Homo sapiens: one gene and its partners. The protein of the gene in region 3 interacts with the protein of the main gene of each other region in a biochemical or structural test. Each region holds a gene or a part of one and is shown on either strand. Other genes may lie near its edges. The genes, in order: EP300, CREBBP, MYB and NLK.

Region 1 (7,126 bases), on a different chromosome or scaffold from region 3:
GGGTGACAGAGCAAGGCTCTGTCTCAAAAAAACAAGAAAACAAACAAACAAAAACAGGCCGGGTGCAGTGGCTCACGCCTGTCATCCCAGCACTTTGGGAGGCCAAGGCGGGCAGATCACGAGGTCAACAGATCTAAACCATCCTGACCAAAATGGTGAAACCCCATCTCTACTAAAAATACAAAAATTAGCTGGATGTGGTGGCGCACACCTGTAGTCCCAGCTACTCGGGAGGCTGAGGCAGGAGAATCACTTGAACCCAGGAGGCAGAGGTTGCAGTGAGCTGAGATGGCGCCATTGCACTCCAACCTGGCAACAGAGCCAGACTCCGTCTCAAAAAAAAAAACAAAAAAAAAAAACTGGGCAAGCAATCTCCCACCAGGAAATGACAGAGCAAGTTTCCAGGTGTCCTCCACATTTCTCATTTCTTTGCTTTGTTTTTTAAAATATTTATTTATTTATTTTAAGAGACAGGATCTCTCACTCTATTGCCCAGGCTGTAGTGCAGTGGCATGATTACACCTCACTGCAGCCTCGACTTCCCAGGCTGAAGTGATTCTCCCATTTCAGTATCTGGAGTAGCTGGACTACAGGTGCTGTGTACACCACCGCGCCTAAGTAATTTTTTTTTTTTAACTTTTGTAGAGATGGGGAATAGGGGGGTCTCTTTATGTTTGCTGGGCTCAAGCGATCCTCCCACCCTCGTCTCCTGAAACGTTGGGATTACAGGCATGAGACACTGTGCCCGACCAACATTCTTTCCTTTGTACTCCTTAGTCTGAATATGGGTATAAACTATTAAAAATAACAAAATTATCCCTGAAGGCCAATCTTGATCTCACTCCTACACATTGAATTCATCCTGTAACAACTTTAAGATAAAGAAGTTCTGTCCTTTTCAATTTGCCTGCTTTTTTTTTTTTTTTGAGACGGAGTCTCGCTCTTTCGCCCAGGCCAGAGTGCAGTGGCGCGATCTCGGCTCACTGCAAGCTCCACCTCCCGGGTTCACGCCATTCTCCTGCCTCAGCCTCCCGAGTAGCTGGGACTACAGGTGCCCGCCACCGTGCCCGGCTAATTTTTTGTATTTTTAGTAGAGACGGGGTTTCACCGTGTTAACCAGGATGGTCTCGATCTCCTGACCTCGTGATCCGCCCGCCTTGGCCTCCCAAAGTGCTGGGATTACAGGCGTGAGCCACCGCACCTGGCCTTTTTTTTTTTTTTTGAGACAGAGTCTCGCTCTGTCGCACAGGCTGGAGTGCAGTGGGCGATCTCTGCTCACTGCAGGCTCTGCCTCCCAGGTTCACGCCATTCTCCTGCCTCAGCCTCCCGAGTAGCTAGGACTACAGGTGCCCGCCACCACGCCCAGCTAATTTTTTTGTGTGTGTTTTTAGTAGAGACGGGGTTTCACCGTGTTGGCCAGGATGGTCTCAATCTCCTGACCTCCTGATCCGCCCTCCTCGGCCTCCCAAAGTGCTGGGATTACAAGCGTGAGCCACCACGCCCGGTTCAATTTGCCTGCTTTTCTACTGCAGTTTGGGTGATCTAGGCCTGATCATTAGAGGACAGATTCCATCCCTGTCAGCAACTTCAATTGCTCCATTAGGATCTTCACTCTTATGTTCTTATTTATTCATCCCAACATTAATTTAAAAAACAAACAGAAACAATATAAAAAAAAAAACAAAGAAAATCCAACAATTTGCAAATACCAGCTACGGAGCATGAGATATGAAATAAAAGAAAAAAAATTTTTTTTTCTTTGGGACAGAGTTTTGCTCTTGTCGCCCAGGCTGGAGTGCAATGGCACAATCTCAGCTCACTGCAACCTCCGCTTCCCGGGTTTAAGAGATTCTCCTACCTCAGCCTCCCAAGTAGCTAGGATTACAGGCGTGCACCACCACACCCGGACAAGTTTTGTATTTTTAGTAGAAACGGGGTTTCACCATGTTGGCCAGGCTTGTCTCGAACTCCTGACCTCAGGTGATCCACTGGCCTCGGCCTCACAAAGTGCTGGGATTACAGGCGTGAGCCACCGTGCCTGGCCGAGAAAAAGCTTTTAACCGTATCAGTAGATACTGGTTTCGGGGTTTCTTTCGGGGTCACTTACACCCCTGCCACCTCCTCCAGTACCAATTTACCCATGGCCAAACACAGGGTGATGTGTAGGAACCTGAAAGCACGTCTCCGACCTCAGCTGCAAAACTGTGGAGTCCCACACACTAGACTTTATATTCCAGCATTTCCTCTCACCATTACATTTTTGCTTTTTTCCATCCTTACATTACCTTTACCACATTTTTGTTTTTCCCATAATTACATTAGATAAGGCAATGGCTAGACGTGGTCTTTTACTAACTTGTTCTATTGGGAGCGGACGAGAAAAAAAAAAAAGACAAACCCTAGAAATGTCTTCAGGTCCCAGCCATGTTTAGGAAAATACTTGAAGGCTTCTGCGGTGAGAGTGCTACCTGGTAAGGGCGTATGGACACACGTGGAGGGCAAGAAATGAATTTGGGTCTGGTGCCGAAACATCTTTCCACTGCTGTGATTTTGTTTTCTGGTCAGAGTAATAATGCTCGTTGTAAAATAAATAAATAAATAATACATAAAAAGGAAAAGGAAAATTCAGAGAAAATGAAAACAACTCGTAATCAACGTGCTTTTTGGATGTGAACTGCTCCCTTTGGGAGGGCAATGGAGAAGTGAGGACGCACTGGGTATCTGGCCCGGAACAGCCGGCAGTGGGTACACCCTGCCTGGTGAATTCGACCGGGGTTTTGGGGGACCCGCCACCCAAGGGCCGAAGAGCAGGGCCGCCCTACGGGCGCTCCCATTTGGCCACCTGAGTGGCGACTTGGCGCCTTCCTCGGAGCAGCTCCGGGGTTCCGTCGTCCCGGTTCCCACTGGTCCCTTACGCAGAGACCAAAGGCAGGAACCTTCCCTCGTAACTATCCACCGACTGAAAATAGATTCTGAGTCCGCCCCCGCCCCTCCCCCCTTAAAATCCTCCCCACTCTTAAAATCCTCCCCTTTAAAGGGAGCCACAGGGTGACGCCGGGGGAGTTTGCGGAAGCGCTAACCGCGTTGGGGCCTAGGGCGGATCCCGTGATTGGGACAGGCCCCGCCCCCGGCTCCACTTCCCCCATTGTGTGAGCGGCTCGGGCCTAGGCCCCGCCCCCCTCCGGAGGCCCGGCCACTCCCCTTTTCCACCCCCCCTTGGCTCATTTCCGGCCGCCGCCGCTACCGCTAGCCTGTAAGGAGGATTCGGCAGAGGGAAGAAACAACAGCCGCCATCTTGTTTGTGTGCTAGGCTGGGGGGGAGAGAGGGCGAGAGAGAGCGGGCGAGAGTGGGCAAGCAGGACGCCGGGCTGAGTGCTAACTGCGGGAGCCAGAGAGTGCGGAGGGGAGTCGGGTCGGAGAGAGGCGGCAGGGGCCGAGACAGTGGCAGGGGGCCCGGGGCGCACGGGCTGAGGCGACCCCCAGCCCCCTCCCGTCCGCACACACCCCCACCGCGGTCCAGCAGCCGGGCCGGCGTCGACGCCTAGGGGGGACCATTACATAACCCCGCGCCCCGCGGCGTCTTCTCCCGCCGCCGCGGGCGGCCCCGAACGGAGCCCCGGGGGGCGGGCGCTCCCAGCACCTGGCCGCCGGCGGTGGGGGCCGTAGCAGCGGCCGTATTTATTTATTTTCCGCGGGAAAGGAAGGCGAAGGAGGGGAGCGCGGCGCGAGGAGGGGCCGCCTGCGCCGCCGCCGGAGCGGGGCCTCCTCGGTGGGCTCCGCGTCGGCGCGGGCGTGCGGGCGGCGCTGCTCGGCCCGGCCCCCTCGGCCCTCTGGTCCGGCCAGCTCCGCTCCCGGCGTCCTTGCCGCGCCTCCGCCGGCCGCCGCGCGATGTGAGGCGGCGGCGCCAGCCTGGCTCTCGGCTCGGGCGAGTTCTCTGCGGCCATTAGGGGCCGGTGCGGCGGCGGCGGCGCGGAGCGCGGCGGCAGGAGGAGGGTTCGGAGGGTGGGGGCGCAGGCCCGGGAGGGGGCACCGGGAGGAGGTGAGTGTCTCTTGTCGCCTCCTCCTCTCCCCCCTTTTCGCCCCCGCCTCCTTGTGGCGATGAGAAGGAGGAGGACAGCGCCGAGGAGGAAGAGGTTGATGGCGGCGGCGGAGCTCCGAGAGACCTCGGCTGGGCAGGGGCCGGCCGTGGCGGGCCGGGGACTGCGCCTCTAGAGCCGCGAGTTCTCGGGAATTCGCCGCAGCGGACGCGCTCGGCGAATTTGTGCTCTTGTGCCCTCCTCCGGGCTTGGGCCCAGGCCCGGCCCCTCGCACTTGCCCTTACCTTTTCTATCGAGTCCGCATCCCTCTCCAGCCACTGCGACCCGGCGAAGAGAAAAAGGAACTTCCCCCACCCCCTCGGGTGCCGTCGGAGCCCCCCAGCCCACCCCTGGGTGCGGCGCGGGGACCCCGGGCCGAAGAAGAGATTTCCTGAGGATTCTGGTTTTCCTCGCTTGTATCTCCGAAAGAATTAAAAATGGCCGAGAATGTGGTGGAACCGGGGCCGCCTTCAGCCAAGCGGCCTAAACTCTCATCTCCGGCCCTCTCGGCGTCCGCCAGCGATGGCACAGGTTAGTTTCGGCAGCCCCGGCCTTCCACGTTCCCTTTAATCTTTTCTACTCGGTGCGCCTTTATTCTTCCATTTTTTTTTTCTTCCTCTCTCTCTAGTTCCCTGCCCCTTAATTAATTTTAAAGGTATTTGAATGAGCTGGTCGAAGACGTCCAGTAGCCCAACCATTTTCTTTGCCTCCTAATACATTGATTGCAACACTATGTCATATCGGTGTGTGTTCTGGAATTAGAGCTCGTAAGTGGGTGCTATATAGAAATGGCCTGTATTGTTGCTCTCATGCAATTTAATTTGGGAAATGCCAATGCATTTGTGTGTAAGAGCTCCTATGCAATTTAAGTTTCATTTTTTTTGTTCTTGGCAAATGAATTTCGAATCCTTTCTCTTTACTGTACTTACTGTGTTTCCTCTACTTTCCACTCTTCGAAATTTTCTCTCCTTTGCAGAATATTTTCTGTTGAGGAATAGGGTGTAAAAAAATCTTGATTTTGTGTGTGCGAGGTCCAAGATTTCAGGTTAGAGGTGAAGTTTAACAATTCTTTTATCTTACCTACCATTCTTAGCTTTTTTTTCCTTTTTCTTCTTATTTGCTTTAAGAATCAATATGGAGCGCAGTTCATTTCACATCTCCCAGTTCTTTGGTGTGAGACCAAAATGTCTGAAACTCTGGGTTTTTAGGTTGGGAGAACAGGGGCATGTTCTTTGCAGTTTGCAGTCACTTTCTCATTTTAGGGGAAATAAGATAAACAATTTTGTGGAGTTACGTACCTGGAAATCAAGGTTAGAAGTTGAAAGAGTTCCAATCATGAACTACAAACGTGAACTGATTGTACAAAAGTTTAAAATGTGCATTAGGTTTGGTGTTTGTGTGTGTCTTTGTCTTTTTACACTTTTAAACATACTTGGAGATCAAGATTTTCGTTTAAAAGCTTTACGACCAGTTCATTCAGTTGTGGACTAGCTCCTTTGTCAGGAGAAGTTCAGGGAGACTTCTTCCATCATCCCTTCATTCTTTTCTTACAGTTAGTTTAATGGTGTTATCCTGATGGGTAAGGACCTTTTCTTTGCTGGGATAATGAAGATGAAGAATGGCTGGCCATCTGACAGTCCACAAGATGTTCCCCTTTACTACGGAGCATCTCTTTAACTCCCTGAGAGCAGGCTCAGCGTCATCCCTCCATCTGCCAGTGAGAGTGCATAATGGAGTTAAATGTACCCTTTGAGTTTGTAGAGAACTTCGAGAGCATGTTTCTAAATAGGCTTCATTTCAGAGGGTGAAAATGGGAAGACAGAGCTAATGCTTTGAATTCGTTGCTTTTATAAGAAAGATGTGAAATGAATTTAAGTTAACCTGCAAAAATTGAGAAGTAGGAATCTTGCGAGTTCCTCTACCTAAGGCTTGTAACATTGATTATGCATGAACTTTGATCTGTACCTATTCTATGAAGGTACTGTAGTCTCCAGGGATTTTTTTAGCTGGTTTTTTCCTTCAGAATTCATACACATACACAAACGTCGTTGTATTCCTTTGCACCTACTAAAGTGCCATTCAGAAACATTTTTTAGATCATCTTTAGAGACTTAATCACCTGTAGATTTTTGTGGTGTTTCTTTCGTATTTGTGTAATGTGGTAGTTTTTGCTTTTTAGTTTTGGTGTAACGTGGTAGTCGATTTTACATTGGAGTTAGCCAGTGACTTGGAACGTAGGGGAAACTTTTTTGTGTACTTTGAGTAGTCCTGATTTGAGCAGTTTCGTCTTGGAGCTGTATTGTTTAAATACTTCTGTTCAGGTGTGCTACTACTTTCTCCATGTCGGTCTGTTTTGCTACTTGAAATATCTTTGAATAATTACAAGAGTTTTAAATGTGTTAAGTGGGCTTTTATAGTTTAAAAAAAAACTCAACATTGAGATTAATTCATTCACTCATAATGCTAAGAGTTTATCTTAGTTACTTTTCTAAATTTTGTAATGAGGGTTAACTTTACCCCCCTCCCCAAATCAAGATTCTACTCCAGGAATTCTTTGGTGTACGGTTTTTAATTGTAACCAGTCTGGGTTTGGGGGAGGGGAGAAGTGAGTATAAAGAAAATACTGTCCCTCTGTTAACTTACTTCAAGTTGGGTACCATTGTAATTTTTTTTTTTTTTTTTTTTTTTTTGAGATGGAGTCTCATTCTGTCACCCAGGCTGGAGTGCAGTGGTGCGATCTCACTACAACCTCTGCCTCCTGGGTTAAAGCAGTTCTGTCTCAGCCTCCCTAGTAGCTAGGACTACAGGCGCAGACCACCACGCCTGGCTGATTTTTGTATTTTTAGTTGAGACAGGATTTCACCATATTGGTCAGGCTGGTCTCGATCTCCTGCCCTCAAGTGATCCACCCACCTTGGCCTCCCGAAGTGCTGGGGTTACAGGTATGAGCCGCCCGGCCAGAGGTACCATTATATCTTGAATTTTTTTTTTTTGACATTCTGCAGTTTGTAATATGTTTGCAGGTAACTTTTATTGGAGGCACATCACCT
Region 2 (7,026 bases), on a different chromosome or scaffold from region 3:
TATTAGATTTCCTCACTAAATGATTATTCTTAACTTTCCATAACATTTCATTTCTCTAGAACAAGGATTAGCAAACTTCGTGTAAAGGGCCAGATACTAAATATTTTCAGCTTTGCAGGCCATTCAATCTTGGTTTTCATCACTTCTGTTCTTGTAGTGCAGAAGCTGCTGTGGTACATAAATGAGGTGGCTGTGTGCCAATAAAGCTTTATTTACAGAAACAAGCAGCTCAGTGTGTTTGCCCTGGGAGATTGCCAACCCCTGCTCTAGAACAGTGATTCAGAATCATTTTTAAAATGTTCACAAATAATTCTGAAGTGTATCCCCAGTATAGAACCACTGCACTGAAACAGTTCTCTTTCAGTAACTAACGTGTGTGTGTGTGTGTGTGTGTGTGTGTGTGTGTGTGTTTGTGTTTCAGAGAGAATTTTTTTTTTAAATTTTTAATTGTTAAGGGTACTTATGGATGTATATATTTATGGTCAATAACTTTTATTCTTATTTTTATTTATTTATTTTATAGTCCCCAGGGAAGAAGCAACTTAAAAAAAAAATACCTTTTTCTAAGCTAAGCTTAGAAAATGTTAAAGAACATTGGGTACATGTTATAGAACATGAAGCTTATAGGCTGGGTCAATGTACAGTAGCTCCCCCAATCTGTCATTTCACTTTCTGAGGTTTCAGTTACCTGGGGTCAACTGTGGTCCAAAAATATTAAATGGGAAATTCTGGGAATAAACAATTCATAAATTTTAAATTAATTAGCTAGGCATGGTATTGCACGCCTGTAATCCCAGCTACTGAGGAGGCTGAGGCAGGAGAATCACTGGAACCCGGGAGATGGAGGTTGCAGTGAGCCAAGATCATGCCATTGCACTCCAGACTGGGTGACAGAGCGAGACTCTGTCTTTTTTTTTTTAAAAAAAAAAAAAAAAAGTTTTAAATTGAGTGCCATTCCAAGTTGCATGATGAATTCTGTCACCATCCCACTCTGTGCCCCCAGGGATGTGAATCATTTATTTGTCCAGCATTTCCACACTGTAGACACTACCCACCTCTTAGTCACTGAGTGTCCACCTTGGTTGTCAGATCCAAAAATCTTGGTAAATATTGGGTTCAGTACTATCCGCAGTTTCAGGCGTTCCAAGACTGGGGGTCTTGGAATGTATCCGAGTGGATATGAGGGGACTGCTGTAGATGTGTGTGTTTAAGCCATAAGTTTCAATGGTTGTTTTAATTATATAAATCAGACTATAAGAAACGTGTGTAGTTTTACCGTTATTGAGGAGTGCCCATTACAAGTGTATAGCTCGATGAATTTTCACAAGCAGAACACTCCCAAGAAAATGTGATTAAATTCCCATACATTTGGCTGGGCGCGGTGGCTCACGCCTGTAATCCCAGCACTTTGGAAGGCCGAGGCGGGAGGATCACTTGAGGTCAGGAGTTTGAGACCAGCCTGGACAACATGGCAAAACCCGATCTCTACTAAAAACAGAAAAATTAGCTGGGCGTGGTGACGGGCACCTGTAATCCCTGCTACTCGAGAAGCTGAGACAGGAGAATTGCTTGAACCCAGGAGGCGGAGGCTGCAGTGAGCCGAGATCGCACCATTGCATTGCAGCCTGGGCGACAAGAGTGAAACTGTCTCAAAAAAAAAAATTTTTTTTTCATACATTTAATTTTTCAAATGTTTCATCACATTTTCAAACGGGGGAAATAATTTTACCATACTCTGTCCATTTCTGGTAGGGACAGGTGCCTGGTGCTGCTCTTCCTAACCCTCTCAACATGCTGGGGCCTCAGGCCAGCCAGCTACCTTGCCCTCCAGTGACACAGTCACCACTGCACCCAACACCGCCTCCTGCTTCCACGGCTGCTGGCATGCCATCTCTCCAGCACACGACACCACCTGGGATGACTCCTCCCCAGCCAGCAGCTCCCACTCAGCCATCAACTCCTGTGTCGTCTTCCGGGCAGACTCCCACCCCGACTCCTGGCTCAGTGCCCAGTGCTACCCAAACCCAGAGCACCCCTACAGTCCAGGCAGCAGCCCAGGCCCAGGTGACCCCGCAGCCTCAAACCCCAGTTCAGCCCCCGTCTGTGGCTACCCCTCAGTCATCGCAGCAACAGCCGACGCCTGTGCACGCCCAGCCTCCTGGCACACCGGTAAGCCTCTCTGTCTCTGCTGTTTTTGGGCCAAGACTCTTAGAAGATAATTTTCCCATAAAAATTGTGTGTCAGGCCAGGCGCGGTGGTTCACACCTATAATTTCAGCACCTTGGGAGGCCAAGGTGGGAGAATCACTTGAGCCCATGAGTTCAAGACCATCCTGGGCAACATAGTGAGACCTCGTCTCCAGCAAAAAAAAATTTTTTTTAACCAGACAAGCATGGTGGTGTGTGCCTGTAGTCCTGTAGTCCCAGCCACTCAGAAGGCTTAGGTGGGAAGATCACTTGAGCCTAGGAGGTACAGGTTACAGTGAGCCAAGATCACGCCACTGTACTCCAGCCTGGGCAACAGAGCGAGACATTGTCATCTTTTGTTTGTTTACTTAAAACTCCATTGAGGCTGGGCGCGGTGGTTCACGCCTGTAATCCCACTACTTTGGGAGGCTGAGGCAGGCGGATCACCGGAGCTCAGGAGTTCGAGACCAGCCTGGCCAAAGTTGTGAAACCTTGTCTCTACAAAAATATAAAAATTAGCCGGGCATGATGGCTGGTGCCTGTATTCCCAGCTACTCGGGAGGCTGAGGCGGGAGAATCGCTTGAGCCTGGGAGGCAGAAATTGTATCGAGCCGAGATTGCGCCATTGTACTCCAGCCTAGGTGACAGAGTGAGACTCCGTCTCAAAAAAAAAAAAATTCCATTGAGTAAGAATTTGCAAATTAGGAATTCTTTTAGTGGTTCCTTCGTGTAATGTTCATTTACTCCACCAGCACCCGTGTTCCTACCGTTCACACAGGCTGGGTAACACTGTCTTTGGGTAGGCACTTGATTTCCCTCCCTTCAGATGTGCTTAGGCATTCATAATTCAGCCTTTTACCATACACATTAACCACCATATTGAAGGGAATTAATTTCAAAATATGAGATTTCATGATTTAGCTAGAAAACTTCGAGAAAATAAATTTATGTCAAAGTTTGAAAAGCTCTGCTGTTTCCTCTGCCTTTGTGGCAAGACCTGAGTTGTACCTCTGGCTGCTGTTACCTCCCTCTAGAACTCATTCCTACTTTAACCCCTGTTCTTCGGTTTCACAGAAGGGCACCTGCTGGATCAGTATTGAGAAATGTTAATGGGAAATTGTAGGTTGCATGAGCAGCATAGTTGAAGATCATTTATGTTACCTTGCTTACTGAAGTCAGTGCTTTCGGTTTTTTCACAGCTTTCCCAGGCAGCAGCCAGCATTGATAACAGAGTCCCTACCCCCTCCTCGGTGGCCAGCGCAGAAACCAATTCCCAGCAGCCAGGACCTGACGTACCTGTGCTGGAAATGAAGACGGAGACCCAAGCAGAGGACACTGAGCCCGATCCTGGTGAATCCAAAGGGGAGCCCAGGTCTGAGGTGGGTGCCGCTCCCTAGGAATGCATTGACTGCGTATCGCAACTTTACCCAGGTGTCCTCGGGCGAGGCTTGGAGCCTGCCATGGGTATCCCTGACTTTAGTTAAAATATTCTGTTTGAATGTGGGTTCGGGGTTTGGTGTATAGGAAATTGATTGAAAACAGCTTGGTTTTTCATTTTTAAATATGAGGGGTGGGTTTATTTTGCCCGAAATGAAGAATACTGGCTTATATTTGAAATACTTGAATCATCCAACAGCCTTTTATTTTATGTTCTCCATTCATTTCTAGTTCTGCAGAGGTAGACTACAGAAGGGGTGGTGGATTCATTTACTAATTAACCTATGGCAGAAGCTGAAAGCTGGCAGACCGTGGGCTGGATCCAGCCTCTAAATGTGTTTGGCCCACACAATACCTTAAAAATCAGGAAATTGCAAATAAAACTCTAGATTTCTGGCTTTTCTTGAAAAATGAGATGCTTTCAGCATTGTGCCTGCATCCCTGTGTGACAGCAGTCTGGTTGTGAGCACCAACTGTAGTGGGCTCTCCAATTAGCCACAGTCCCCACTGCTCCTTCCTGTCTCATACCACACCTGCCTCTGAGAAGGACTTTTGGTCCCTGCCCCAACTTTCAAGGAGATTTTTATTCCAAATTAGAAATATCTGTAGTGAAAAATCTGAGTATGTGCAATTTTTAAAGCAGTTTTACATTTAAAAACTTTTAAATTAGGCTGGGAGCTGTGGCTCACACCTGTAATCCCAGCACTTTGGGAGGCCGAGGCAGGTGGATCACTTGAGGTCAGGAGTTCGAGACCAGCCTCGCCAACATGATGAAACCCCATATCTACCAAGAATATAAAAAATTAGCCGAGTGTGGTGGCACACACGTGTAATCCCAGCTACTCGGGAGGCTGAGGCAGGAGAATTGCTAGAACCCAGGAGGGGGAGGTTGCAGTGAGCCAAGATCTTGCCATTGCACTCCAGCCTGGGTGTTAGACTCTGTCTCAAAAAAAAAAAAAAAAAAAAAAAAAAAAAAAAACACTTTTAAATTTAGGACCATAATTGCACTGACTCTGTGCTGAAGCGACTTAATGAACACCAAGTACTTTATTTCTTCTTCCGGAAGAGAAGAGGAATCATAAATGCAACTCTGACTAGAGGAAGGTTTTAACAAACCTGTTTTAGGCTTGTAAGAGTCTTCCCGTGAGGTTGCGGTAACATAAAGGTGTTTGATATTCATATGTTATCTGTAATGTTTTTCTCAAGATGATGGAGGAGGATTTGCAAGGAGCTTCCCAAGTTAAAGAAGAAACAGACATAGCAGAGCAGAAATCAGAACCAATGGAAGTGGATGAAAAGAAACCTGAAGTGAAAGTAGAAGTTAAAGAGGAAGAAGAGAGTAGCAGTAACGGCACAGCCTCTCAGTCAACATCTCCTTCGCAGCCGCGCAAAAAAAGTAGGCCATTTATTCATTACCTTATTAAAGCATGCTGCTTTTCCACGGTGTTAGGATTCCATGTGGAGGATTAAAAGCTAAAGTAGAAACATAATTCTATCTGCCCTTTTACCTTTCTTGCCTGCCATTCCCCAGACTTTCCCCTGCAGAAACACTCAGGCTGAGCAGGACCCCTGCCCTGTGCCTGTGGGGCTCATGGCAGGAGTGAGAGATGAGCTGCTGCTCCGAGGGCACCCAGGCTGCAGAGCTGTCTTCTGATGGTGCTGGCAGGGGCCGAGTTGAAATGTGTCTGGGTCCTTGAGCAGGTTAAGGAGCTTGGCTTTACTCATAAAAGTATAAAGAACCAGTGATGTATGTGAGTAGGAGAATAACCAAAAAAGCCATAATTTAAGGAAGATGGTCATTATGACAGCACAGGGTGACTTGGAGGCAGAAGGTTTCTGCAGGTGCAGTGAGGAAGCTGAGCATGCAGAGTGAGGGGCAGGGTGGCGCCTAGGGACCCTGTGTAGTGAGACATGGGGGAGGGGTAGGTTAGGCATCTTTGGGGTCTGAGATGTGTGAGGTAAGCCCGCCTCACAGTGGAAGTTGGATGGAATCCATTTGAGATGTATCCACAGTAAAGAGATAACAGGGTATCAGAAAATTGTCAAGTGAACCTTAGAAATGGGAGACAGGACTCAGAAAGTCCAAGGCTGCAGATGACACTTTTGGGAAAGATTGCAGAGAAATGTTAGAGACTGAGACCATGTTACTCTGCAGCTGGAAGGGACCCTGGAGAGTGTGGAGTACAGTGAATCTCAGGGCTCTTTATACTCTTAGAAATTGAGGGCCCCAGAGAGTTGTTGTGTGGATTATCTATCATTGCTTACTCTACTGGAAACTAAAGTTGAGAAATTTGAGTACAGTGGCTTACACCTGTAATCCCAGCACTTTGGGAGGCTGAGATGGGAGGCTTGCTTGATGCTGGGAGTTCAAAACCAGCCTGAGCAACATAGCAAGGCTCCATCTCTACAAAACTAAAATAAAACTAGCTAAGTGTGGTGGTGCACGCCTATAATTCTAGCTGCTCGAGAAGCGGAAGCGGCAGGATTGCCTGAGCCTAGGAGTTTGAGGCTGCAGTGAGCCCAGATCACATCACTGCACTCTAGCCTGGGAGACAAAAGTGAGATTGTTGTCTGAAAAAAAAAAAGAGAAAAATTTTTAAATATTTAGTTCATTTAAAATAGTCTGTTACATGGCACCCATAGAAAACATTTATATGAAAAACAATTTTTCCAAAACAAAAATAAGTAAGAATAGTGGCGTTATTAAGGGTATCTGCCTCTGCATTTACTGTGTTGTGATTGGTTATTTTGGTTGAAGTGTATGAAGAAAATCCTGTAGTTGGTAAAGGGAGAAGTATTTTCGTAGCCCTTTCAGCTGATTGTGGATATTCTTTGATACTATACCAAAATTCAGCCAGTGAAGGTTTCTTAAAGGTTAGTTGCGACATTGAACCAGAATCTATAGCACTGGATTTTTCATAGTCTGTGACATTAGAATCCATTGATCCATCTTGTACTTGGAATGGATCTTTTGTGCTTGCATGATTTTTTTTTCAATTGACACTTAAGTTCTGCAGATTTTCCATATGTTGACATATTTCACTATACAGTGTCAAAAAAAAATCAACATTTGTTAATACCACCATCAGTCTCTTCAAACAAGTCTTACCAACTTAGAAAAGCAGGGCGTGCATGGTGGCTCACACCCGTAATCTCAGCATTTTGGGAGGCTGAGGGGGAAGGATTGCTTGAGCCCAGGAATTCAGGGTCTATGATTGCACCACTGCACTCTAGCCTGGAGCTCAGGAGTTCGAGAGCAGCCTAGGCAACATGGCGAAACCTAATCTCTATTAAAAAAAAATTAGCTGGGTATGGTAGTGCATGCCTGTAGCTGCAGCTACTCGAGAGGTTGAGGTGGGAGAATCACCTGAGCCTGGGAGGTCAAAGATGCACTGAGCCTTGA
Region 3 (7,026 bases):
GATGCAGACTTACACCTCTGGGCTTTATAGCTTTTTTTTTTTTTTTTTTTTTTTGCTTTATCATATCGTGTTTTACATTTTTGTAGTTCTTGTTCAGAAGTTGTTTAGTGCCTCCTGTTGACAGTGGAAACAGAACTAGGCTATTGTTTCAAAACACAGACACTAAATGAAAGGAATTATTACAGATTATAAATATATATTTCCTGGGATTTTATTTGGTGGTGGTGGTATTTTAAATTTGGATTACATCATGTCGCCATTCAACCTGGACTATCAGATTGTTGCTTAAAATAATAGCTTTAAATTATGAGAACCCCCAATTCAGGATTTTTGGTAAGCACTTCAGCTTCACTTGTAGGGGGCTGGTAATATGCATACCAGTGAGTTAGTTTGGGAAGACAAAACCTGTAATGAATATAACTTTTCTTTTTAAAAACAATGATTTACATTATGATATGGCTTTATATCATTGTTTTTATTGGTCTTAGTTTAATGGGTTTCCCAACATTGCAATGACAAATTTTAGTGAAGTTTCTAAGATAGTATTTTTCCTATTTTAAGTTTTATAAGAAAAACTATAAAATAAACCGTGTCTGTAAAATTATTGTCATCTGATCAGTTGATTAGATTAACAAACATTATGATTATGATTAACAAACAGTAAGCATATAGTTACTTCTTCAAAAGTCATAAAATTTCCTAGGTTAGGTTAACTAAATAAAAGAAAAAGCTTTCGAAAATAGTAATGGGTTCTTTTAAATCCATGGCTTTTTTCTGGGGAAATCCCTTCTGGATTAGGTTACATTTTATAATATTTCAAACACCATTCCATCAGAGACAGAAAAAACAAGAGTAAGTAAGACTCTGACTAACAAGTGGCCTAATTATTCACTTAGTTACTCTAGAAACTAAGTATTGTAAACATGGGCACAAGTTGGATCAACCAGGCCTGGAGTTGTGAGCAATTTGGTATTAATTTTATTTACAAAACATTAAAGCTTGATCACTCAATGTTCTTATCTTTGCTTTGGTTTTAAAATCCTTTCCTCTTAGATTCTCCTAATCCTCTAGACTTTATGGGATCACTATAATTCTGTTTTGCGCTGTACTACTTCTTGATTTTTTTCTTCTTTTAATAAAACAAAAACCCCATTGGAATAGCATAGTTGAATTGTTTATTATGTTTGAGAAATATTATTTAAACGATGTGACAGATGCCAAAGATTTTGAGTGTGCACTTATATAAAGGACATGGGTTCTTGTTCCTTTTCTTATCCTTAACCTTAAGTTTTCAACTTAAACCTTCACTGGTTGGAAGGTGGCCAAATGTGTAACTTGTCCCTGGTCTAATAGTAACAGCAGGTTCAGACATGCAGGGGAATAGGAAGGTGCCAGGTCCTTGGCCGTGTCTGTGGATACCCATAACAGCAGAACCAGTTTACAATACTAGAGCAACAGAATGCAGCAAACAATCTTGTTGTGCAAGTTTTCAAAGTTTTGTCTTCATAACCTTTGAAAAGATTGTTGAGGAGTTTTGTGTAAGTTTTGTAATCCAGTAGTAGTCTAAATCCTCTTGTTTCAGCCCACGTCTACCCATTCTTATTTCTGCAGCATATATAGCAGTGACGAGGATGATGAGGACTTTGAGATGTGTGACCATGACTATGATGGGCTGCTTCCCAAGTCTGGAAAGCGTCACTTGGGGAAAACAAGGTGGACCCGGGAAGAGGTAACTAATCATTTTATCAAGACGCAGAAAATAGATAGAGTGTATAATTTATAAAAAACAAAATTTCAACTAAACTACAGGTGCTCAAGCTCATTAGCAGGCTCCTTGAGATCTTATCCTAGCCCGCATGTGCAGCGTGCCCTATGCCCCCCACTTCATTATATTATCCATTTCCACACTATTTGCAGTTCTTTGAATGTCCTCTTCTCATTTTAGGCTTCATCTGTGTTTCCTTTTGCCTGTTGAGTTCTCATCCTTTTGTCCCACCTCTTCTTCCTACTTTTACATTACCCATGAAGGCATCACCTCTTCTGTGAAGCCATCCCTGGCTTCGCCGGACAGGATTGGATGCATCCTCCTGTGATCCCATGCATGGGTGCATGTTCTACTTTATTGTTGCTGGGACATATATACCTCCTCCAGCTGACTGCAAGTCTGTTGAGGGCAGGGCTCTTGTCTATTCATCTTTGTGTTTCCTGAATTCACAAATGCTTGGACCCAAAATAGGATATTAATAAATGTTCTCTCAATAAGTGAATGACTTGCTACTCCCAAAAACAAAACAAACAAAAGAATAAAACAAAACACTCAGAGAACTCATCTTTTTACAGTGTATTGATTTAATATCCTTGATATACTTAACAGAGCCATCTATATGAAGGTATGTTTTAAAATCATCCGATAATGGATGGAGACACATCTGCTTCTCCTGTTTCTTTTTCGGCTGGCTTATCAAAAGTTTGATTTTGTAGGAATGGAAAAATATTTTAGAAGCAAAATTATTAATATGTGGAGAAAAGTTTCTCTAATGTTCTTAAAATTTTTGCAACTAATTTTAGATGATTCATGTTACAATAAATGGTATTGGCTCTTCTTCAGTTTCACTGTTCTCTGCTTCATTTAAACCAGAGCTCCTTTTAACAGGCAGGTAGGATTCCCAGAGAGGCCCATAGGAAATTCATATTTTACCTATTAAGATTATCCACTTGGATAATCCTTATGATACGGAAATTCTGTTGTCAACATTGGTTTCCTAATTCTTGTGTCTGTATTGTACCAGGGACCTCCACTGTGTGTGAATGTTACCTTTGCAGAAACATAAGAAGGAATGCATTTATATACTTATGAACTGGTAGGATTGTGAACAGCATATAAACTAAAAGAACTGATTAGCTGGAAATGTTTAATGTCTTTTATGTTCTAACACATCTGGCCTATCTAAATCTAACTGATTTTCTTATATAGCTTTCAAATTTAATTTTAAAAATGGTCTTTATTTCTTTATAAAAAGTTAAACTAACTGGAAATATTCTATTTCTTGCTCAAGATCCTATTTATTACCATAGGTAAATGTGTACTGAATCTAGCACTGGAATGCATTTTTTCCTAACAGAGTAAAGCAGTTATTTATAATAAACACTCAATATATGCCAGGCATTATGATAAATGTTTTGCAAAATTGCCTCATGTAATCCCCAAATAACCCTGTTAATATCAGCCTCATGTTAATAAATTGCCCCATGTAATCCCCAAATAACCCTGTTAATTTCCATTTTATAGATGGCAATACTAAGGCCCAGAAAGGTAAAATGGTATACCCGCTTTACACAATTAATAGTTGAGTCAAGATGCCAACTCTGGTCTGATTCTAAATAAATCTATACTCCCAAGTCCGTATATTACATTAATATCTCCTGTATTCGGATACTTTAGAGAGACTTTTTATTCTAGATTCGTTCCCTCATTCACTTTAACTTGAACAGAGTTATATAGTAAATAACTGATATCCTAGGATTACCTTTAAATGTCTTAGGATGAAAAACTGAAGAAGCTGGTGGAACAGAATGGAACAGATGACTGGAAAGTTATTGCCAATTATCTCCCGGTAAGTTAGTAAGTTTTTCTTATAACGAAAGGAAAGCTTCTCCCAAAGATTTCTATAAAATATTCTAGGAGGAGTTATTAAGATAGTGTATAATTTACTCACATTTAAGAAGTGGGAGAAATGCCCTACCCATAACTTATATTTTATATTATAATGCATATAATTAAATTATTAGAATTTAGATTATTAGAATCGATTATTATAATTTAGATTATCAAATTTTAAAAACAGTTGCTTCTTGTTTTATCTTTTCATTTATAGGATAATTAGTATTTTGATGATTTGTTACATGGTAGTTGATTAAACTTGATATTTCCTCCAAGTCAGTTTTTCCTGAATTCCCTATTTTTGTCAATAGCAATACTTTTGGCACCAAGGTTTAAAATTCTGAAGACCTTTCTTGACTTATCACATTCCCCCAACCCCTACATCTAAGCAGTTACTAAGGACCCTGGAATTCCTTTATAGTCAGTCCCGTCCTTTTCATTCTCATGGCTGTGCTGAAGGTTGGGCTCCTGCCCTCTCATTTGGACTATCATATAACTTCCTAACTGGCTTCCCCACTTGTAGTTTTCCATTTTTCTTTCTTTTTTTTTTTTTTGTTTTTTGTTTTTTGTTTTTTGAGATGGAATCTAGCTTTGTTGCCCAGGCTGGAGTGCAGTGGCACGATCTCAGCTCACTGCAACCTCCGCCTCCCAGGTTCAAGCGATTCTCGTGCCTCAGCCCCCTTAGTAGATGGGATCACAGGTGCCCGCCACCATGCCTGGCTAATTTTTGTATTTTTAGTAGAGACAAGGTTTCACCATATTGATCAGGCTGGTCCCAAACTCCTGACCTCAAGTGATCTGCCCACCTCAGCCTCCCGAAGTGCTAGGATTGCAGGCATGAGCCACCGTGCCCAGCCAGTCTTCTACTTTTCCATTCATCCCAAACACCATTGGCAGGTGGAACTTCCTAAAATGCAGCTGTACCTTATCTTTTCAAAACCAACCACAGTGACAGAATCTCACAAATTAAGTAAACTGCCTTGACTTGGCACACAGAGGCCCTCCTCTATTGCCCCAACTTACAGCTCCAGTTCTGTTTCCTGCTTCCTCTCTCTAAGCAGGTTTGCTTGAATTTATTTCTGCTTTACCTCCTCTGGGCTTTTGCTCCTGGTCTTCCCACCTCCTAGAATATTCTCCCTTTATGTCACCAATTAAAGTTCTGTCCATCCTTCAAAGTCCTTATGAAGAGCTCTTCAAGACTCCTCCCAAGGAAACCATTTCTCCTCCTAAGAAGATGCTTCTCTCCTCACTTCAGTATCATTTTGCTTTGGTCTTTTCTTCCAAGTGAATCAAATTCAGCATCTGTGATAGTCAGTCATCTACTTGTCTTTTCCTTCTTATAAGTTTACAAACTCCTGTAACATAGGACCTATCTTTTATGCATCTTTTTTCTTTCTGCAATATAAATACTTTGGTCCTGGATTGAAGCACATCTCTTGTCTGAATGGGAAGCAAACTTTAGTCTTTTAGGGTGGTTTCCATGAAAGCCTGACAACATAGAATCTCTATCAAGCCTCAGGCTATGTAGATACTCTGCAAAAGTATCTGAGGTTAAGGTTAACTTGGCAGGCACATGTGTAGTATGATGGTCCTTTAGATCATGTGGCAGGAATGTTTCCCTCAGGAGGCAGAGTGTCTAATTTTAGATGCAACTTTGATATATTACTTGCATGTTCTGTAGCCTGTAAGTAATGAGGGATAGATGGGCTCTAAACATGCTCTAAAATGTTCTTAAATATTTTCACTGCATATGGTCTATGTGTGATTCCTATTACAACAAAAAATTCACGTGCTTATCACATCATATCTTTATGGTGGTGCATACTTTATTTGTCTAGAATCGAACAGATGTGCAGTGCCAGCACCGATGGCAGAAAGTACTAAACCCTGAGCTCATCAAGGGTCCTTGGACCAAAGAAGAAGATCAGAGAGTAAGTTCTTTCTTCATTGGTGTGTGACTCATAATTAAGAATATTCCCAAAATGCTAATATTTTCCTATTTGAGGAAGCAGGTAAAATGGGCAAACAGGAAGTAGAGGACTCTATTCCCATATTTCCAGTGAATGAAAGCAAATTTTGGAAATTTTCTAAAGATCTTGTAACACTGAAGAATGATTATACTGACTCATTACATAACTTTAAAACATAGGTTATTTTTGTGTGTTTATCTGAAGGTGATAGAGCTTGTACAGAAATACGGTCCGAAACGTTGGTCTGTTATTGCCAAGCACTTAAAGGGGAGAATTGGAAAACAATGTAGGGAGAGGTGGCATAACCACTTGAATCCAGAAGTTAAGAAAACCTCCTGGACAGAAGAGGAAGACAGAATTATTTACCAGGCACACAAGAGACTGGGGAACAGATGGGCAGAAATCGCAAAGCTACTGCCTGGACGGTAATAATATGTCAAAAAATATATTGATCGGGAAGAATGAGGGAGTGGGTATTGAACATTCTGCTTTAAATGTATGGTGAGTAAATTATATTTCATCAGTCGTAAGTGTTTTATTAGATAAACCAGCTACATAGCTTTTAGAGATTGAAGACATCTTAGAGTTTATTTGGTTGAGAACTTCCAGGATCCACCTGACAGTGAGCCCTGGGTGAAGACATTTAGCTTTCCCCAGCCTCAATTTCCCCATTTCCAAAATGAATCATACAGGGCCAGTGTTAGGATCAAGTAAAATGAATGTCAAAGGACTTGGTAAACTATAAAACTCTAAATGCATAGAAAGAAACTGAAGACAGTTTGTCTCTGGCAGTTCACGTAGCTGGTTAAGTTACTCAAAGGAACTCAGCTACCATTTTCCTGATAACCATCATTCATTTCTTTTATTTTTTTTAATTATTATTTTTTAGAGACAGAGGCTTGTTCTGTCACACATGAGTGACAGAGTGCAGTGGCATGATCATAGCTCAATACATCCTTGAACTCCTGGGCTCAAGGGATCCTCCCACCTCAGCTTCTTGAGTAGCTAGGACTACAGGTGCACCCCACTACACCCAGCTGATTTTAAAATATTTTTTGTAGAGATGGAATCCTGCTATGTTACCCAGGCTGGTATCAAACTCCTGGCCTCAAACAATCCTTTCACCTCCCAAAGTGCTGGGATTATAGGCATGGGCCACCATACCTGGCCACCAGTATTCATTTCATTATACCACTTTGCTTAATTTTTTACTTCATTGATTAAAGAAATAATGTATTTCTTGAATTCTCATACTACTTCCAGGTTTTTAAATAATGTCAGGGTAATAATGCTTTCTTTTTAATGAACAAGGCAAGAAAATGACCTCATTATGAGGGATAACTATGGAAGCTCATTTTGTCCCATTTTTCCCACTTAAGTAGTATATAACAGATT
Region 4 (7,026 bases), on a different chromosome or scaffold from region 3:
GAGTATCTGGGACTACAAGCATGCTCAGCTAATTTCTAAATATTTTGTAGAGAAGAGGTCTCACTATATTGCCCAGGCTGGTTTGAACTCCTGGAGTCAAGTGATCCTTTTGCCTCAGCCCCGCAAAGTGCTGGGATTACAGATGTGAGCCACCGCGCCCGGCCAGGACACAAAGTTTTTTAAGGTTATTTGAAAAAAAAATCTGACCATTATATTGCATAAGGAAATGTTTGCTCTGTGTTGTTGAGATGGAAGCTTTTCCCAATACCCTTTCTGGACTTGACTCTTCTGGAACATACTACAAATTATACTGTAAGTTCAGCTCTTCATTTATTCATTCATCCAAAGAATATTTATTATTCACATCTATGCCAATAACTATTGTCAAAGAAGACTTAAAAATGGAAGCATTTAGTAAAGAAAATTTAACTTGCCAAGAATACAAAGTCACCAAATACGAAAAATACCAGATATTTAAAAGATAAAACAACCACAAAATTACCAAAGTTATTAAGTTTACATTGGTCCATTTGTAGTGAGAAAGCTGCAACTTTCTCAGAAGATATCAAATTCACAAAGCTTCAGACATCAGCACAGCAAAGATTAGGGATAAAAATAATTCTGTTAAGGAGTTCAGGTTTGTGAGAAACAGTCAAGGTTTTTTTATTTGGGGGACCAGAACCAATTAGGGTGACCCAAATTATTTTTGTAATGTCTCAGGGTACAATTTAGATTGCTTATGTGTTTATTTTGGTGTTTTTTGCTGTTGTTTTCTTTTTTGTTTTTTTACTGTGGTGTATTAGTCTGTTTTTACACTGCTGATAAAGACATACCCAAGACTGGGCAATTTACAAAAGAAAGAGGTTTAATTGGACTTAAACCTTAAAGTTCCACATGGCTGGGGAAGCCTCACAATCATGGCGGGAGGTGAGGAGGAGCAAGTCATGTCTATATGGATGGCAGCAGGCAAAGAGAGAGAGCTTGTGCAGGGAAACACCCCTTTTTAATCTGGTCAGATCTCATGAGACTTATTCACTATCACGAGAACAGCACAGGAAAGACCTGCCCCCATCATTCAGTTACCTCCTAGGTCCCTCCCGTAGCATGTGGGAATTCAAGATGAGATTTGGGTGGGGACACAGCCAAACCATACCATGTGGTATGTGAAGTGCTTAGTGATACTATAAGCCTGACAAAGTGGCAGTTCTTGCTCCCACAGTCTCTCTTTGTGATCAAGTTCCCACTATTAAGGACAATTTCAATCATATAACTTGCTTTATTGAGCTAGTGATTTACTATCATTTGATATTTTGTGTTATTTGGTAAGTTTATCTACATAACTAACAGAAGATGTTGATCAATATGTTAAAAAACAAACTCCTTTTATATGGTTAACAAAACTAGAGCTGTGTGAAATTCAGGCTTCAGAGGTAATTTCTGTCTGACCATAGAGGATTTTATAAAGGGTCTAGGATTGAAATTTATGTGTTAGAAATATTTTATTCTCTATTTCTATTTAGATTTGGATCCAAGAACCATGTAACTCACCTCTACCAGGTGTGCATACACTGTTTAGAGCTGTAAGGCATCCTCTTTCTCTGAGATCCCATGTTTTGTTTGGTTTGGTTTGGTTTGGTTTGGTGTTTTTGAGACAGAGTCTCGCTCTGTTGCCCAGGCTGGAGTGCAGCAGCGCAATCTCAGCTCACTGCACCTCCACCTCCCGGGTTCAAGCGATTCTCCTGCCTCAGCCTCCTGAGTAGCTGGGATTACAGGCACGTGCCACCACACCCGGCTAATTTTATATTTTTAGTAGAGATGGGGTTTCACCATGTTGGTCAGGCTGGTCTCAAACTCCTGACCTCATGATCCACCTGCCTTGGCCTCCCAAAATGCTGGGATTACAGGCATGAGCCACCGCACCCAGCCTAGAGATCCCATGTTTATTAATGCTCCCGATCTGCCAGGAAGGTAGTGTTTACAGTCTTTAAGGCTGGAACTTCCTAAGCCATAGAGCAAGTAGTAAGCCCATTTTTCTGGGAGGTCTTTTGTACACAAGTTCTACATGTGACATGTAGTCCTTATTCCTTAACAGTGGGATTATCACACTTAATTAAATGAAATTTGTGGTGTAGTTGTAGTTATAAAGATTTATCTAAGGAGAAAGATTTATCTGGTAAGGAAGAGTATATATTCTTTTGGAACCTATGTAAGTAACTACATAGTCATTTAAAAATAAAGAAATTAGGCTGAGCATAGGGCACAGTGGCTCACACTTGTAATCCCAGCACTTTAGGAGGCTGAGGCAGGAGAATCTCCTGAGCCCAGGAGCTTAAGACCAGCCTGGGCAACTTAGGGATTACAAAATTAAAAATTTTTTAAATTAGCTGGGCGTGGTAGCACATGCCTGTAGTTCCAGCTACTCCAGAAGCTGAGGTGGGAGGATGGCTTGAACCCAGGAGGTTAAGGCCAAGGCCACAGTGAGCCATGAGCTCACCATTGTACTCCATCCTGGCAAGGGAGACAGAGGGAAACCCTGTCTCAAAAAGAAAGAAATTAATTTATTTAATGCACACTACATAATAATTAACCATTTTTATCACTGTGTTATAAACAAAGCCGACAAGTTTGTTACTTTGTTACAGAACTATTTTTAAATTAGCCTGATGCTTTATTAGCTTTTGATCTATATTAAGGATTTTTTTTATTTCCAGTTCTGAGAGTTCAATGAGAACAAGAAACCATTTAAAGAGAGGTTTGTTCTGATTTTAACCTGTTAAATTGAAAGTCAGCAATACATTAAGAAAGAAATGAGGTGTGTTTGTGTGTCAGGGTCTCACTGTGTGACCCAGGCTGGAATGCAGTGGCACGATCTCCGCTCACCACAACCTCCACCTCCTGGGTTCAAGAGATTCTCCTGCCTCAGCCTCCTGAATAGCTGGGATTACAGATGTGCGCCACCACACCCAGCTAATATATTTTTATATTTTTGGTAGAAACAGGATTTCACCGTGTTGACAAAGCTGGTCTCGAACTCCTGACCCACCTTGGCCTCCCAAAGTGCTGGGATTACAGGCGTGAGCCACTTTTTAAATATCCATGAAGAACAGACCATTGACCATAATTAAATCAGTGTATTTATTTAGTCCATTTAGTCTGAGGTAACTAGTTATTCTTGTTTTGTTGATCTTGGGTTAAGCAGTCTACTGCCATCACATGTCTGCTCCTGAACTGAAATGATGACTCAATTACTTGATTCAGTCTAAGAGCAGGTGTCTGTGGTGAGATACACATACACAGACAAACACAGACACACACACACACACACACACACACACACACGCTGAACATCCCTAATTTGGAACTTTGAGTGCCAACATGACACCACAAATGACCTGACCTCAGTGACAGGTCACCATCAAAAAGCAGGCATACAACACACAGTTTGTTCAGTATCCCCAAGGGAAAAAAGACCCCCAGCCTCCTTCAGCTGTGATTCTATCTTCCCCAAGCATATCCAGATTCCCCCATGCAAATGTGCCCACAAAGGGTAATAAAATGGCACATCTGCAGGCCAGATGCACCAATGACAGGTTCCCCACAATGTCCCACATGCTGCCAAGACCTATAGGCATTATTTACTGTATTTTTTGCCTATTCTGTGCTCTTTGGAGTAAAAATATTGTTGAAAATGTCAAAAAGTCCTGCAGATAACCCAGCAGGTAACTGATTTTTTTAAAAAGAGGAAGCATTTCTGTTTATAGCACAGAATGCCAAGCTATTGGAGAAACTGCACAGTGGTGTAAGTGTGAAGCATCTTACAGACAAGTATGTTGTTGGAATGATCACTGTATGTAACCTAAAGGAACAGAAGGATAAACCGTTGAAGTTCTGTCCTGAAACTCATGAACAGAAGTTAAAGAAAAATAGAAGGAAAGGGAAGCCAAGGGCTCAGAGAGGCCTGGGATCAGGCACATACACTGTCAGCCTACTTGTTCCTTTGGGTTCAAACAGTGGAACACTATCCCAGTGGAATCTCTAGGAATCGCTATCAAAGGACTCAGACTTTTTTAGAAAAAAAGAAAAGGAAAAAGTTTACTTGCTAAGAATGCAGGGAAGTCAGACTTCAAAAGAGCTAGATCACCAAATACAAAACATAAACTTATTGAAAGGAAAAAAAAACAAGGTTATCAAGTATACGTTTGCCTGTTCCTGGTAGATAAACACCCGCTTTCTTCTGTGATTATCTTATCTTGAAAGGTCATGACATGCCTTTTTACATCAGCATAGCAAAAATCAGTGATAAAAGTGTTTTTAGGGAATCCGGGCTTATGAGAAACATTTCATTATTATTTGGGAACGAGAACAGTTGTTTTTGGTTTATCTGAGAACAAAAGTGGTTTTCATTTTTAAATTGTGTAATGTGAAGAAGTGCTTGGTCATATTGGAATCAGGGCAAAGTGTGTGTTCTTGTTTTTGTTCTACTGTGTACTAGTGAGTTCATCCTTAAATCTTTAAAATTTACTTTCAGTAATACACGTATGTCTACTGAGCTAAAAGAAGGGACAATTTCTTTAATTTTTTCATGGAGTAATGTTAAAAGTTTAGATTTTCAGGCAAACTTAAAACTCATGCATTCAGTATTCTGATCTAAAGTGACAGAAAATGACTAGGTGCAGTAGCTCATGCCTGCAGTCCCAGCACTTCAGGAGGCCAAGACTGGAGGCCACAAATTCAAGAACACAGTGAGACCCCATCTCTACAAAAAATTTAAAAATAAAGTGCCAGAAAACAAAAAGCTAGACTAGACTTCTGATATTCAGACTGAGCTATATCTCAAAATATGGCAGTCAGACCACTGTCTGCTGCCTAACTCCAGCAGCTTTTGCCATCATCTGTTTGGTATTCTAAGAGAATAAAAATTTCAAGCAACTTTGAAAATTGCCACTGTGAACGCATCTTCAGGATGCTGACACATATTTAGAAAATATAGCCTGTTATTTAAAAGGTAAACGTAACCCCTTCAAAGCACTACATAGTTAAATGTCATGATATTTGTGATTTTTGACCCAGCATACATCTATTTCAATGTAGTAACTTCTTAGAATTTTAGAAGAAAGGCACTTCTAAGTACTTTGTGATGGTAGATAATAACAGTAGTTGTCCTAAATCATACACTCCCTCTGCTGCTATGTTACCCACCTCTAAATTCAATTATCCCTCTTTGGACGGGATGTACTATAAATTATATATATGCTATGTCAAGCAGTTAATGTGTCTTTTGAAAGATCCTATGTGGACAGTCATTTTATCTGTAGTGTTGATGTGCTGGTCTCTAATTTGATTTCAGTCCAAAAGAATATCCGCTAAGGATGCCTTAGCCCACCCCTACCTAGATGAAGGGCGACTACGATATCACACATGTATGTGTAAATGTTGCTTTTCCACCTCCACTGGAAGAGTTTATACCAGTGACTTTGAGCCTGTCACCAATCCCAAATTTGATGACACTTTCGAGAAGAACCTCAGTTCTGTCCGACAGGTTAAAGGTGAGTATCTGTTTTGGCCTTTGGCCAGGCAATATGCCTAGTAACATTTTCCATTAGGTGGCCATGAAGAGCTGAGATCTGGATGGTAACCAAAGCTCCCCTCTATGTTTATTTTACAACCTTGCGTATAGCTGTGTGTCCGGGGCATAACAAAGCATATTTAATATTATATCCAGGGGAAGGTCGGGGAGAGGAATGAATATTTTGTTCTTATTTTCAAAGTTTATTTAGTGAGTATGACTCAAAATATGTTTAATATGTATTCACTCAGTGTCATTTCATTGATTCAAACGTATTGAACTTTATATAACATACAAAGTTCCATAAAGGATAAACATTCACTGAGGGAATTATTCCTTGGACGATGACAAGAGAAGGGAATTTCTGATAGTGTACTCATAAAATTTTGTGGCAGGATCTCCTATTGGAATACAGTGGGAGTAATGACATCCAAAATTCTGAGTGATTTTAGTGTCTACTGTAGGACATTTTACAAGAGAGAGAGTAGTCCCCAAAGTAACCACCTGAAACTATACACCTAGATACCAACTGAGGTCTTTAAGTGATCTTCAAAAAGGCAATAATTGCCAGCAACTTAGAAGAGTTCACCCATAATGCCAAACCTGTGGAGTCTCTCTCAAATTTATAGGCCATTTTACTCTTCCCACTGATGGGGTTGCAGTCTGTGTAATGCCACCAGTAGGTTTCTTATATTTAGCAACAGCTGTCATTTTAGTTTTAGGAAGTTCAGCTGAATTCTGCTTGATAGATGATGTGTGTGTTTGATTTAACTAAACCAGTAGGCAGTGCTTTTCAGATGCTGGCTAGAGTTCGCTGAGAATTCACTGCTCCCGGGCTTGCAAATTGTCATGGATTGTATGATGTTTGTTTTCTCCACAGAAATTATTCATCAGTTCATTTTGGAACAGCAGAAAGGAAACAGAGTGCCTCTCTGCATCAACCCTCAGTCTGCTGCTTTTAAGAGCTTTATTAGGTAACTATATGTATGTAATTCAACATTCTTGTTAGAATTAAAAGGATGCCAGTGTTACTTCATTATTCAGCATATTTGTTTTTATTTAGATAACATAGATAAAAGGTGCAACAGAAAGTTTCTGTTATGAGGTTTGGCTTTAGTCAAAAGTGTATTAAAACTGTAAGCATCTGGGCTGGGCGCGGTAGCTCATGCCTGTAATCCCAGCACTTTGGGAAGCCAAGGCAGACAGATCACCTGAGGTCTGGAGTTCAAGACCAGCCTGACTAACATGGAGAAACCTTGTTTCTTCTAAAAATACAAAATTAGCCAGGCATGGTGGTGCATGCCTGTAACCCCAGCTACTTGGGAGGCTGAGGCAGGAGAATCACTTGAACCCGGGAGGCAGAGGTTGCGGTGAGCCGAGATCGCACCATTGCACTCCAGCCTAGGCAACAAGAGCGAAACTCCATCTCAAAAAAAAAAACAAAAAACTGTAAGCATCAC

What was found.
Region 1: the proteins of MYB (region 3) and EP300 form a complex in vitro, tested with the Homo sapiens proteins (3 studies listed by BioGRID, with this or other methods).
Region 2: the proteins of MYB (region 3) and CREBBP form a complex in vitro, tested with the Homo sapiens proteins (6 studies listed by BioGRID, with this or other methods).
Region 4: of the proteins of MYB (region 3) and NLK, one has a biochemical effect on the other in vitro, tested with the Homo sapiens proteins (2 studies listed by BioGRID, with this or other methods).

What each region holds. Positions count from the first base shown.
Region 1 is NC_000022.11:41,088,492-41,095,617, forward strand, and holds the start of EP300 (histone acetyltransferase p300), read left to right. Parts: upstream 1-4,100; 5' UTR 4,101-4,513; coding exon 4,514-4,607; intron 4,608-7,126. UniProt on the Homo sapiens protein: Functions as a histone acetyltransferase and regulates transcription via chromatin remodeling. Acetylates all four core histones in nucleosomes. Histone acetylation gives an epigenetic tag for transcriptional activation.
Region 2 is NC_000016.10:3,765,713-3,772,738, reverse strand, and holds part of CREBBP (CREB-binding protein), read left to right. Parts: intron 1-1,752; coding exon 1,753-2,169; intron 2,170-3,385; coding exon 3,386-3,565; intron 3,566-4,829; coding exon 4,830-5,019; intron 5,020-7,026. UniProt on the Homo sapiens protein: Acetylates histones, giving a specific tag for transcriptional activation. Mediates acetylation of histone H3 at 'Lys-18' and 'Lys-27' (H3K18ac and H3K27ac, respectively).
Region 3 is NC_000006.12:135,184,292-135,191,317, forward strand, and holds part of MYB (transcriptional activator Myb), read left to right. Parts: intron 1-1,611; coding exon 1,612-1,729; intron 1,730-3,542; coding exon 3,543-3,614; intron 3,615-5,499; coding exon 5,500-5,592; intron 5,593-5,835; coding exon 5,836-6,056; intron 6,057-7,026. UniProt on the Homo sapiens protein: Transcriptional activator; DNA-binding protein that specifically recognize the sequence 5'-YAAC[GT]G-3'. Plays an important role in the control of proliferation and differentiation of hematopoietic progenitor cells.
Region 4 is NC_000017.11:28,185,674-28,192,699, forward strand, and holds part of NLK (serine/threonine-protein kinase NLK), read left to right. Parts: intron 1-5,347; coding exon 5,348-5,546; intron 5,547-6,446; coding exon 6,447-6,540; intron 6,541-7,026. UniProt on the Homo sapiens protein: Serine/threonine-protein kinase that regulates a number of transcription factors with key roles in cell fate determination. Positive effector of the non-canonical Wnt signaling pathway, acting downstream of WNT5A, MAP3K7/TAK1 and HIPK2.